Linked DNA regions of Homo sapiens. The protein of the gene in region 1 purifies or fractionates together with the protein of each later gene. This does not show direct contact. Each region holds a gene or a part of one and is shown in the gene's direction. Other genes may lie near its edges. The genes, in order: DRG2, API5 and MAPK13.

Region 1 (3,651 bases):
CCCGGCCAATTTTTATGTTTTTTGTAGAGGCACGGTCTCACTATGTTGCCCAGGGTAGTCTTGAACTCCCAGCCTCAAGCAGTCCTCCCTTCTCAGCTTCCCCAAAGTGCTGGGATTACAGGCATGAGCCACCATGCCCAGCTGCAGAACCCATTCTTGACCATTTCTTACTGCTATCAATTCACTGATTCACTTGGTAAAATATTTCCTGTGTGCCTGGGCCCTGTGCTGGAGGCTGGGGATCCAGTCCCATTTCCTGACCTATCGGAGTCAGGGAAGTAAAGAAATAAGATCATTTTCAGAGTCGAGAAGACAGTAAACCTGCTCATGAGGCAGGAAGCAGTCTGGGGAAGGGCGGAATTTACTGTAGATTATAGCCAACTTTTATTGGGTGCTTACTGTATGCTAAGCGATGTTCTTAGTGCTTTCTGTAAGACTTCTCCATTATTCCACCATCAAAAATCTGCTGAAGTATGGTCAGGCACAGTGGCTCACGCCTGTAATCCCAGCACTTTGGGAGGCCGAGGTGGGTGGATCACTTGAGGTCAGGAGTTTGAGACCAACCTGGGCGACACGGTGAAACCCCGTCTCTACTAAAAATACAAAAATTAGCCAGGCATGGTGGCACCAGCCTGTAGTCCCAGCTACTCGGGAGGCGGAGGCAGGAGAATCTCTTGAACCCAGGAGGTGGAGGTTGTAGTGAGCTGAGATCGCACCACTGCACTCCAACCGGGGTGACACCAGTGAGACTTTGTTGGTGGCTCACACCTGTAATTCCAGCATTTTGGGAGGCCAAGGCGGGCGGATCACCTGACGTCGAGAGTTCGAGACCAGACTGACCAACATGGAGAAACCCCATCTCCATTAAAAATACAAAAAATTAGCTGGGCATGGTGGCGTGTGCCTGTAGTCCCAGCTACTTGGGAGGCTGAGGTAGGAGAATCTCTTGAACCCTGGTGGCAGAGGTTGCAATGAGCTGAGATCACACCACAGCACTCCAGCCTGGGCGATACAGTGAGACTCCATCTCAAAAAGAAAAAAAAAGAAATCTGCCTAAGAAGTTACTACTGTTAATAACCCTATTTGCAGATTAAGAAACTGATGCACAAGAAGACTAACTTTTCCAAAGTAAAATGGCCCCACTAATGGCAGGGTGGAGTTCTGACACAAGCTCTCACTGCCCTCTGAGACTGGGCAGGGGAGGCCTCTTTGAAGAAGTGACATTTGAGCTGCACCTCAAATGATGGTAAGGAGCCAGTTCCAGGAAGATCTCGTTGAAATGGAGAGAATCGCCAGTGTGAAGGTCCCAAGGAAGGAATGATGTCAGCATATTCTAGAAAAGGAAAAAAAGAAAGGCCAGGCCCAGTGGCTCAACCTGTAATCCCAGCACTTTGAGAGGCTGAGGCAGGAGGATTGCTTACAGCCAGGAGTTCAAGACCAGCCTGGGTAACATAGCAACATCTCATCTCTACAAAAACAATTTTTTTAATTAGGCAGTCCTGGTGGTATATGCCTGTAGTCCTAGTTATTCAGGAGGCTGAGGCAGGAGTTCAAGACTAGTGAGCTATAATCGTGCCACTGAACTCTAGTCTGAGTGACAGAATGAGACCCCCATCTCTTTAAAAAAAGAGGAGAAAGCAACTGTGTCTGGAATGTAGCAGAGTGTGTTGAAGTAGCCAGGAGCCAGGTAACATAGGGTCCTGGTTCTCAGTCTCAACGACGGCCTCCTTTTAGAGCAAAGAGTTTGTAACACCATTTACAGTCCTGAAATGAAATTCCCCATCAGTAATATAACTTGAATTTGAAAAAAACCAATATAATACCCTAATAGTAATATAAAGGAGAAGAAGAAAAAGGAAAGTAATTTATAATGAAAATGGTATTTATTTAAATACATAAATGCTGGAGTGCTGCCAGGATCTAACGAAGTTACCCTGAAGCAGTAGAATGCTCATGCCTCTAGGTAGAATCACTGGGGATGTGACAGCCACGATGCAGGTGTGTTGTATTGGCCACTGAGTTACACCCCAAGAGGGGCTGCCATGGCAGCGTGGGATCCCAGAATGGTGAGCAGCTCTAGGTAAAGTTTCAGACAAAGCATGACATAGTCTTCCCTTCATATACATAATAGTTGCATTCCTGGGAATTTCAGTGTATATTAACACTGTACAAAATGTCCTGTGTTTATATGTAAACAGAGCTAGGTTCTAGGCCTGGCGATCCTAACCCAGGTTTTCCCTCTGTGGATGCCTTTGGGATGTGACAAGTCATGGACTTGGGATAATTCTCCTCAGCTACATAGGACTGACTCACCTAATAGGGCAGCTGGTTTCCCTGCCCCCTGCCCAATAGATGCCAATGCGTACTTCACCATCAAAGTGAACAGAAAACATCTCCCAGAATTTCCAGAATGCCCCCCAGGAAGCGGTGCCCCCTCTGTTGAGAACCATTGGTGAGAACCATTTGGTGAAGTCTCAACAAAGAGGCGGGATTTTTTTTTTTTTTTTTGAGATGGAGTTTCACTGTTGTTGCCCAAGCTGGAGTGCAATGACGTGATCTCGGCTCACCACAACCTCTGCCTCCTGGGTCAAGTGATTCTTCTGCCTCAGCCTCCCAAATAGTTGGGATTACAGGCATGAACGACCATGCCCAGCTAATTTTGTATTTTTAGTAGAGACAGGGTTTCTCCATGTTGGTCAGGCTGGTCTCGAACTCCTGACCTCAGGTGATCCACCCGCCTCGGCCTCCCAAAGTGCTGGGATTACAGGCGTCAGCCACTGCGCCCGGTCTAAGAGACTGGATTTTATCTTAAATGAAGTGAGAAGCCAAGGGGGCCTTTTAAGCAGAGAGATTTTTTTTTTTTCTCCTGATCTCCTTGACAGCAGTTGCTTCCCAGCCAGCACTTGGCGACATGTGGGCCCTGCCTGACCCCTGGGCTTGGACACCCTGGCCACTCATCTTCTGTCTTGCTTTCCATCCTTTAGCCACTGAGTATCATCTGGGCCTGCTGAAAGCTAAGCTCGCCAAGTATCGGGCCCAGCTCCTGGAACCGTCCAAATCGGCCTCGTCCAAAGGAGAGGGCTTTGATGTCATGAAGTCGGGTGATGCCCGTGTGGCGCTGATTGGATTTCCCTCTGTGGGTAAGGTCAGTGATGGTCAGTGTGGGCCTCGGGGAGGAAAGCAAGAAGTCATCTTTCAAACAGGTGACCATCCAGGCTCCCCTCGCTGCCTTTCTGCTTAGCTCCAGGGACACAGAAGACCTGGCCTCCCCCAGGGTCAGATCCCAGCCCTTTATCATCCTAACATGGAGGACGCTCTTTCCTCTTGCCAGCAGATGGAGCCCTACTTGGTCTTCCGACTCAGTCATCACACACAAATACTTCTCGAGTGTGTATCTCTAGCGGTGTCATGTGCTGGGCACTGTGCCAGGGACTAGAGACATAGCATGAATGAGACAGAGCTCTGTCCCTGCCCACATAGATCTCCCATTCTTGAAGAGAAAGGACAGTAAATAAGTAATAAGGTGCATCCAGTGGTGAGGAGTGGGGGCTGGTGAGTGACAGGGTGAAGGTCTGCTAGTTACGACAGGTCCCGGCAGGTTTCTCTGGTGAGTGAGTATTTGGGCAGGGGCCTGAAGGAAGTGAGTGAGCT
Region 2 (3,651 bases), on another chromosome or scaffold:
AAGCCTGATTTTCATGTCAACTTATGAGAGATTTATGATCAGTACTAAGTTTCCTGGCAAATACCTGTCTGGATACTTCTGAGACTGCATTCAAGTTTGTCAGTCTTGACTTCCTTCTAACTTTTACTTTGATTATCAACCTTTACCAGAGAGGTGAGCACTACAGGTGTTCTGATTGCTGCCACTACAGACTATTCCCTCCCCATTATTGTCAATACTCCTTTCAGAGTAGTGCCTTCTAAATATATAAGGGTAAACTTACAAGCCGTCTGAGGTTTTATCGGCTAATTTCCCCAAAGCAGATCAAATCCTCTTTTTGAACCCCTTGGTACGATGTACTTACTAATAATGCTTCAGACTTGTATTTTATTTTATTTATTTCTGTACTTAAATTATAACGTCTCAAGGGTTAAATCCTTTTATGTATTTATTTATTTATTTATTTATTGCTTCTCTTCTTGCACTGTACCTTGCCCTTCAGTAAGCATTTCTTTTTCATAGTTGAAGAAATGTATTGGAAGAAGGAACAGAGAAACCATTTACAAAAGAAAAGAAAAACCATTTACACAGATTATCTCTAATGGATAAAGGGAACTTTATCATACACACACACATACATACATATATGAGCATGTATATTCTAATAAGCAAACTGCAGATGACAAATTCTAAGTGCAGAATTATTTAATACCTCAAATCTTCCAGTCCTATCATCTTCTCATGTAACTGCCATGTTCTGCCTATGCGTTCATCCTGCCTTTCCCCCACTCTGCCTCTGCTACTCCTTCAGGTCTCACTCTTCTCTTGTGTGCTCCTTTACCTTTCTGATCTCCTTTTCCACTGTACTCTGCCCAGGGCTCCTGACTAGCCATAATAGAGCAAGCTGTGGCCCACCATTATTTAAAATTCTGTTTCAAATTATTATGAATTTACTTACTTTAAATATAGATACTTAATTTTATATTATGTAGTCAAAATCTTAAAAGTTAAAAAATGTATCCGACACCTGTTAAAGGACCATGGCAGTGGGGCTGATTAGATCTGTATAATGCTGAAACCCTGATTCCTCCTGTTCTCTCAATCATTGAGTATACTAGCTTTGCAGGGTTGGCGTGTAGGCTTCTTGGACTTTTATTTCATGAAATAACCACTCTTGTAGTAGGGTTTTTTGTATGATTAAGCTAAAACCACTGACCAACCAAGTTCGTAATCCCTCAAAAATATGTGGAAATATTTATTTCACTTCTCTGAGCCCTAGTTTCCTCATCTAAAAGATAAGAATAGTAGTAACACCTATTGTGATATAGACAAGGAATCACTCAGTCCCTGGTAGACCTTCAATAAATATTGTTAATGATTCCTTTTTATTTGATTCCAGATTTAATATTTTTTTCTTGGCAAAAGGAAGTTTTGTTTTAAGCAGGGTTTTTTTTTTTTCATTTAATTTTGGACAGTGTAAGGAGTTTCTTCAAATGGCTTTATGAGTAAGTTTGAGTTAAAGAAAATTAGATTTGTGATACCCTGCAAAAAGTAAGGGTGTCAGAACAAACTTTGATTTTATGAAGCCTGCCTAGAAGTCTGAGGCAAACCACAGGAATGTAAAGTGGTAGAGAAGTCAGCATGATTTCTTTTTTTAATGTTTGCGGTGAAAAGTATGTCATATACCTTTCTTTCTTTGAGACAGGGTCTTGCTCTGTCAGGCTGGAGTGCAGTGGCGCGACCACAGCTTACCACAGCCTCTAACTCCTGGGCGCGACCATGGCTTACCACAGCCTTTATCGCCTGGGCTCAAGTGATTCTCCTCCCTCAGCCTCTCCAGTAGCTGGGACTGCAAGCACACACCACCATGCCTGGTTAATTTTATATTTTTTGGAGAGACAGGGTCTTGATGTGTTTATAATACACTTTTCAGTGATGACTCCTGAAGACTCATATATCTGCATTTCATGAAGAAGTTAACCTTATTCACAGAAATTTCTGTTATTTGGGAGTTGTTCTGTAACTTTGCATCCTGCTTTATTTTTTCACTTAACATAGCATTATCAACAAAAAAGAATCACTGTAAAATAAATTTGGTAATTCTGTAGTTCATTGGATATTTATTGGTCATTCCCCGCTTGATGGCATGAAGTAAGCTCATGTGTCTAAAGCACTTAGAACACTCCTTATACATAATAAATACTATACTGTGTATATGTTTGGTCAAGATTATAATTTTTAAGTTGTTTTTCCAGTTACTAAGTTTTATTCATATGTCCAAACAATATATATGTGTAGTCTTTCTGTATTTGTTACTGTTATTTACCATCTTTATCAGTGTCATTTCATAAAAGGACTGGTTTGGAGGCAAGTACTTAAGGAGGATTGGGAACTTATTGATTCCTCCCATTATGAGTATTTGAGGGAGAGCACCTGTGATTTTTTTTTTTAAGGAAACATGAGCTTTGAGTGTATTGTTCCAATAAAAGGTTTAAACATGTGACATTAGAGTCCGTCTTAATCCAAAATTGTCTGGCTATATGGAGTGAATTGTCATGGCTTTCATATACTGCTATGAGGTAAAATTAAACTGCACTTCCTAACATTGCTGGAATTGCTAAATTTCTGGAATGTATTCCCTTCACCTTCTTCAAGGTGCTAATTAGAAACAGGTAAATTTTTGTTTAAGTAAATACAGTGCAATTCTTTGTGAATTCTATGGTATTCATGATGATTTATTTATTTACTTGTTTAAGATAGAGTCTCATTCTGTCACCCAATCTGGAATGCAGTGGTGCGATCTCAGCTCAGTGCAACCTCTGCCTCCTGGGTTCAAGCGATTCTCCTGCCTCAGCCTCCTGAGGAGCTGGGATTACAAATGTCTGCCACCACACCCAGTTAATTTTTGTATTTTTAGAGAGAGGGAGTTTCACCATGTTGGGCAGGCTGGTCTGGAACTCCTGAGCTCAAGTGATTGCCCACCTCGGCCTCCCAAAGTGTTGAGATTACAGGCATGAGCCACCACACCTGGCCATCATTACAATTGTTTTGTTTGTTTGTTTGTTTTGTTTTGTTTTGTTTTTTGGAGACAGAGTCTCACTCTGTCATCCAGGCTGGAGTGCAGTAGTACGATCTCAGCTCACTGCAACCTCCGCTTCCCGGACTCAAGCAATTCTCCTGCCTCAGCCTCCCGAGTAGCCGGGATTACAGGCGCACACCACCACGCCTGGCTAATTTTTGTGTTTTAGTAGAGACGGGGTTTAACCATGTTGGCCAAGCTAGTCTTGAACTCCTGACCTCAGGTGATCCACCCACCTTGGCCTCCCAAGGTGCTGGGATTACAGGCGTGAGCCACCACGCCTGGCCCATTACAAATTTTTTAAGCATGATACAGTCACATGGCCAGAGTTAATAATCACTAGAATGAAGAAGTATTGGCATATTAACAAACACATTTGCTTTTTCCACTTAAAATTAGACTCATCCATCTCCCCCAACTCAAAAATGAAACAAAGATGGAGGGAGAACGGAATTGGGAAGGTAAGTGTCAGTTTGAGCAGTAAACCTCCCAAAATCAGCTTTATTTCTTAGCCTGTGTAAAAATTTAAAGCACACTCTAACATGTTTGTTATGGTCTTTTACTTTGCTTCCCATCCTTCAAAATCATGTGTC
Region 3 (3,651 bases), on another chromosome or scaffold:
CGGAGGCAGAGGGGGAGAGCCTGGAGGTCAGTGTTAGTGATCTAAAGTAGGGATCTAAAGCAGAGGTGATGGGATGCCAAGAGCAGACTTGAGGCCCCATTTGGGAGGCAGGGCCGACACAATGTTCCATCTGTTGGGGTGCAGTAGCTGAGTGAGGTGGCAGAGGTGGAGGAATGGGCAGGTTCCTGCTTGAAATACACGGTAGAGGAAGAACAGATCTTGGGGGAAAGATAACGAACTCCATTTTGGACACTTTACTTTTAAAGAAACTGTGAACATTCCAATGTTTAATCACAGTTGCAAATAAATATGAACCTCAGGAGACGAAGGTCTGGGCTAGGGATGTGGATTTGTGCTGGAATAATCACCGATGGGTTATAGCTGACACCCGGGAACAGATAATTGTAGAATGTGGTAAGATAGTATTGATTCAGATATCAACATGAAAGAGAAGATCCAAGAGGATGAGCAGATGGAAGAAGCTGAGAGGGCCTGATAGGAGGCAGAGGAGAGTCAGCAAAGAATTGAGAGGGAGTTTCAGACTTGGTGAAAGGTTAGATCAGAAGAAAAGGGAGTCATGGTGTGTTTGTCGGGTGTTCACTGGTGACCTTGAGCTGAGCAGTCTGGCAGTAGGAGGGAAGCAGAAACCAGGTTAACTCAGGACTGGGAGGTAAGGCAGTGGGATCCAGGAGTGTGGACCGCCCTTTCTAGAAGTTTGGTGGTGAGAGAGGGAGAAGGGGTGGTCAGTTGAAGAAGCAAAGTCAAGGGAATGTGGTTCTAGCACAGAGAGGCTTCAGGAAGCATGTTGCCAAGATGAAAGAACCAGTGCCCGAGTGGAGGGGAAAGACACAGGAGGGGACTGGGCATGGAGAGGCCCCCAAGGGAGGTGTGTGGTCCGGCAGGAGAGGGCTGCCAAAATCCAGAGTCTCCTGGAGATGCCTCCAGCATGTCCTTTCAAAAACAACAACAACAACAACAACAAAAAACACAACCTATTACATAATTGTTTAAGGTAACATTCATTTTAAAAAAGTTTTAAATTTATTATATTCTAGAGATAGGGCTGGGTTGCCCAGACTGGAGTGCAGTGGCACAAACACAGTTCACTGCAGCCTCCAACTCCTAGGCTCAAGCCATCCTCCCGCCTCAGCCCCCCAAGTAGGTGGGACTACAGATGCATGCCACCATGTCCAGCTTTTTGTTTTGTTTTAATTTTTATAGATATGGGGTCTCACTATGTTACTCATCCTGATCTCGAATTCCCGGCCTCAAGTGATCCTCCCACCTCAGCCTCTTGAGTAGCTAAGACTAAAGGTGCATGCCACCACACCTGGCTAATTTTTTTTTTTTTTTCTGAAAGGTGGGGTCCAGGCCGGGCATGGTGGCTCACGCCTGTAATCCCAGCACTTTGGGAAGCCGAGGCAGGCAGATCACCTGAGGTCAGGAGTTCGAGACCAGCCTGGCCAACATGGCAAAACCCCGTCTCTACTAAGAATACAAAAATTAGCTGGGCGTTCTGGCGTGCACCTGTAGTTGTAGCTACTCAGGGAAGCTGAGGCAGGAAAATCGCTTGAACCTGGGAGGTGGAGGTTGCAGTGAGCCAAGATCACGCCACTGCACTCTAGCCTGGGCGACAGAGCAAGACTCCATCTCAAAGAAAAAAAGAAAGGAAGAAAGAAAGATGGGTCCCTATGTTGCTCAGGCTGGTCTTAAACTCTTCGCCTCAAGCGATCGTCCAGCCTCCATCTCCCAAAGCACTGGGATTGGAGGTATGCCCCTGGCCTATTTTATAATTTTTATTATTTTTTGTCTTTGTCCTGGTCTTTGCTTTTACTGTAACAGTTACATTTTGCTGGCCTTATCCTGTTGTGCAATCCCCTAAGAGGCTGCAGGAGCCTCCCCATCTCCCTCTTCCACCCTCCTGGAAACTGTTGTATTGTTTCCTTCTTGGAAAGGTAGACATATTGTTTGTTTGTGGAGCCATCTCAGCTGGGCATGACCCTCTGAGGGATCAAATATTTGGACAGAAGCCGAAGGAAATACTGGCAGATGTTTCTAACTCCTAGCTGTGGCTTTCCCTGGGGTGTGGAGGAGGGCAAGGAGAGAGTACCTTTGAAGAGCGGGAACACAGTTCCATGTGGCTTTCCTGAGCGCGCTCCAACTGCAGCGCTTACTCCGAGCTCTGCCAGCTGGGCGGCCCGCCACAGGGAGACTGGGAGCCAGGAGCCCAGAGGCCCGTGTGGTGATCTGGCTGGCTGAGGTGGAGTTGAGTTTTTGCACACTGGAGGGTGTCTCTATGACCCCTGTTCTGCCCTGAGGTCCCTCCTCTGAGCTCTGACCTGGGGCTGGGTGGGACCCGGCACTGTTCCAAGAACCCCTCATGCCTTCCAGCTACCTGGTGATGCCCTTCATGCAGACGGATCTGCAGAAGATCATGGGGATGGAGTTCAGTGAGGAGAAGATCCAGTACCTGGTGTATCAGATGCTCAAAGGCCTTAAGGTGGGTGGGGACTTGGAGGCTGGCAGAGGGGACGCCTTGCTGTCTAGACCTGAGGTTTGGGGAGGCTGGAGGGAGCGCACTGTTACAGGTCGGCCAGCCTGAAGTGCCTGGTGTGGAAGCTGGGCCATGGACTCACCCTTCTCTCTCTCCCACATAGTACATCCACTCTGCTGGGGTCGTGCACAGGGTGAGTGCTTTCTCTGCCATGGTCCTCAGAGGCCCCTGTCCCATCCCTGGGTATGGGGTTCTCTGGCAATCAAGGAGTGGGAAAGTTGGAGGGAGGGGACACTGCCCAGGAGCACAGAATGTGGAGTTTTCACACCCAGCCACGGCCCAGGAAGGCCTGCTCAAAAGAGTCACTGTGTCCCAGGGGACTTCATGGGGAATTGCTGCAGACAAAGTGAGCCCTGAGCTGAGTGTTTCAGGCTTCAAGAATCAGGAACATTTTAGAGCTGGGTGGGCCCTGAGAGAACACCTAGTCCAACCCTCATTTTACACATGAAGAAACTGAGGCCCAGAAGGGGAAGGGGCCTGGCTGAGGTCACACCCCTGGGTGGTGGTGGAGCTAGGACAAGCTCCATCTCTGCCTCAGCCTAGCATGCATTCTCTGTCCTCCCCCCAGGACCTGAAGCCAGGCAACCTGGCTGTGAATGAGGACTGTGAACTGAAGGTGAGTGGGCTGCAGGCTCAGCCCAGAGGCGGGATAGGCCCTCCCCCAGGGAAGCCCCTGGAAGCCGCTCCCAGAGCCTCCTCCCCTCAGCAAGTTCCTTTTCTATTTATCCCCTGTGCCATAGATTCTGGATTTTGGGCTGGCGCGACATGCAGACGCCGAGATGACTGGCTACGTGGTGACCCGCTGGTACCGAGCCCCCGAGGTGATCCTCAGCTGGATGCACTACAACCAGACAGGTCAGTGGTCAATGCCTGAGAGGGCGGTCCTGGGGCCATCTGGTCACTCGGTGCTGACTGACTGCTGGGCCCCAGACAGTCCAGGTGACACTCTCCCTCCCTCTGCAGTGGACATCTGGTCTGTGGGCTGTATCATGGCAGAGATGCTGACAGGGAAAACTCTGTTCAAGGGGAAAGATTGTATCCTTTGCTGGAAAAGCCAAACTCCATCTAGGGATTCCTTCCTTCAACAGACACTTTAT

What was found.
Region 2: the proteins of DRG2 (region 1) and API5 fractionate together in Homo sapiens (co-fractionation; one large-scale study listed by BioGRID). This does not show direct contact.
Region 3: the proteins of DRG2 (region 1) and MAPK13 purify together in Homo sapiens (affinity purification with mass spectrometry; one large-scale study listed by BioGRID and IntAct). This does not show direct contact.

What each region holds. Positions count from the first base shown.
Region 1 is NC_000017.11:18,090,829-18,094,479, forward strand, and holds part of DRG2 (developmentally-regulated GTP-binding protein 2), read left to right. Parts: intron 1-2,984; coding exon 2,985-3,145; intron 3,146-3,651. UniProt on the Homo sapiens protein: Catalyzes the conversion of GTP to GDP through hydrolysis of the gamma-phosphate bond in GTP. When hydroxylated at C-3 of 'Lys-21' by JMJD7, may bind to RNA and play a role in translation.
Region 2 is NC_000011.10:43,314,964-43,318,614, forward strand, and holds part of API5 (apoptosis inhibitor 5), read left to right. Parts: intron 1-3,457; exon of another isoform or gene 3,458-3,519; intron 3,520-3,651. UniProt on the Homo sapiens protein: Antiapoptotic factor that may have a role in protein assembly. Negatively regulates ACIN1. By binding to ACIN1, it suppresses ACIN1 cleavage from CASP3 and ACIN1-mediated DNA fragmentation. Also known to efficiently suppress E2F1-induced apoptosis.
Region 3 is NC_000006.12:36,133,362-36,137,012, forward strand, and holds part of MAPK13 (mitogen-activated protein kinase 13), read left to right. Parts: intron 1-2,391; coding exon 2,392-2,500; intron 2,501-2,657; coding exon 2,658-2,687; intron 2,688-3,122; coding exon 3,123-3,170; intron 3,171-3,294; coding exon 3,295-3,409; intron 3,410-3,517; coding exon 3,518-3,589; intron 3,590-3,651. UniProt on the Homo sapiens protein: Serine/threonine kinase which acts as an essential component of the MAP kinase signal transduction pathway.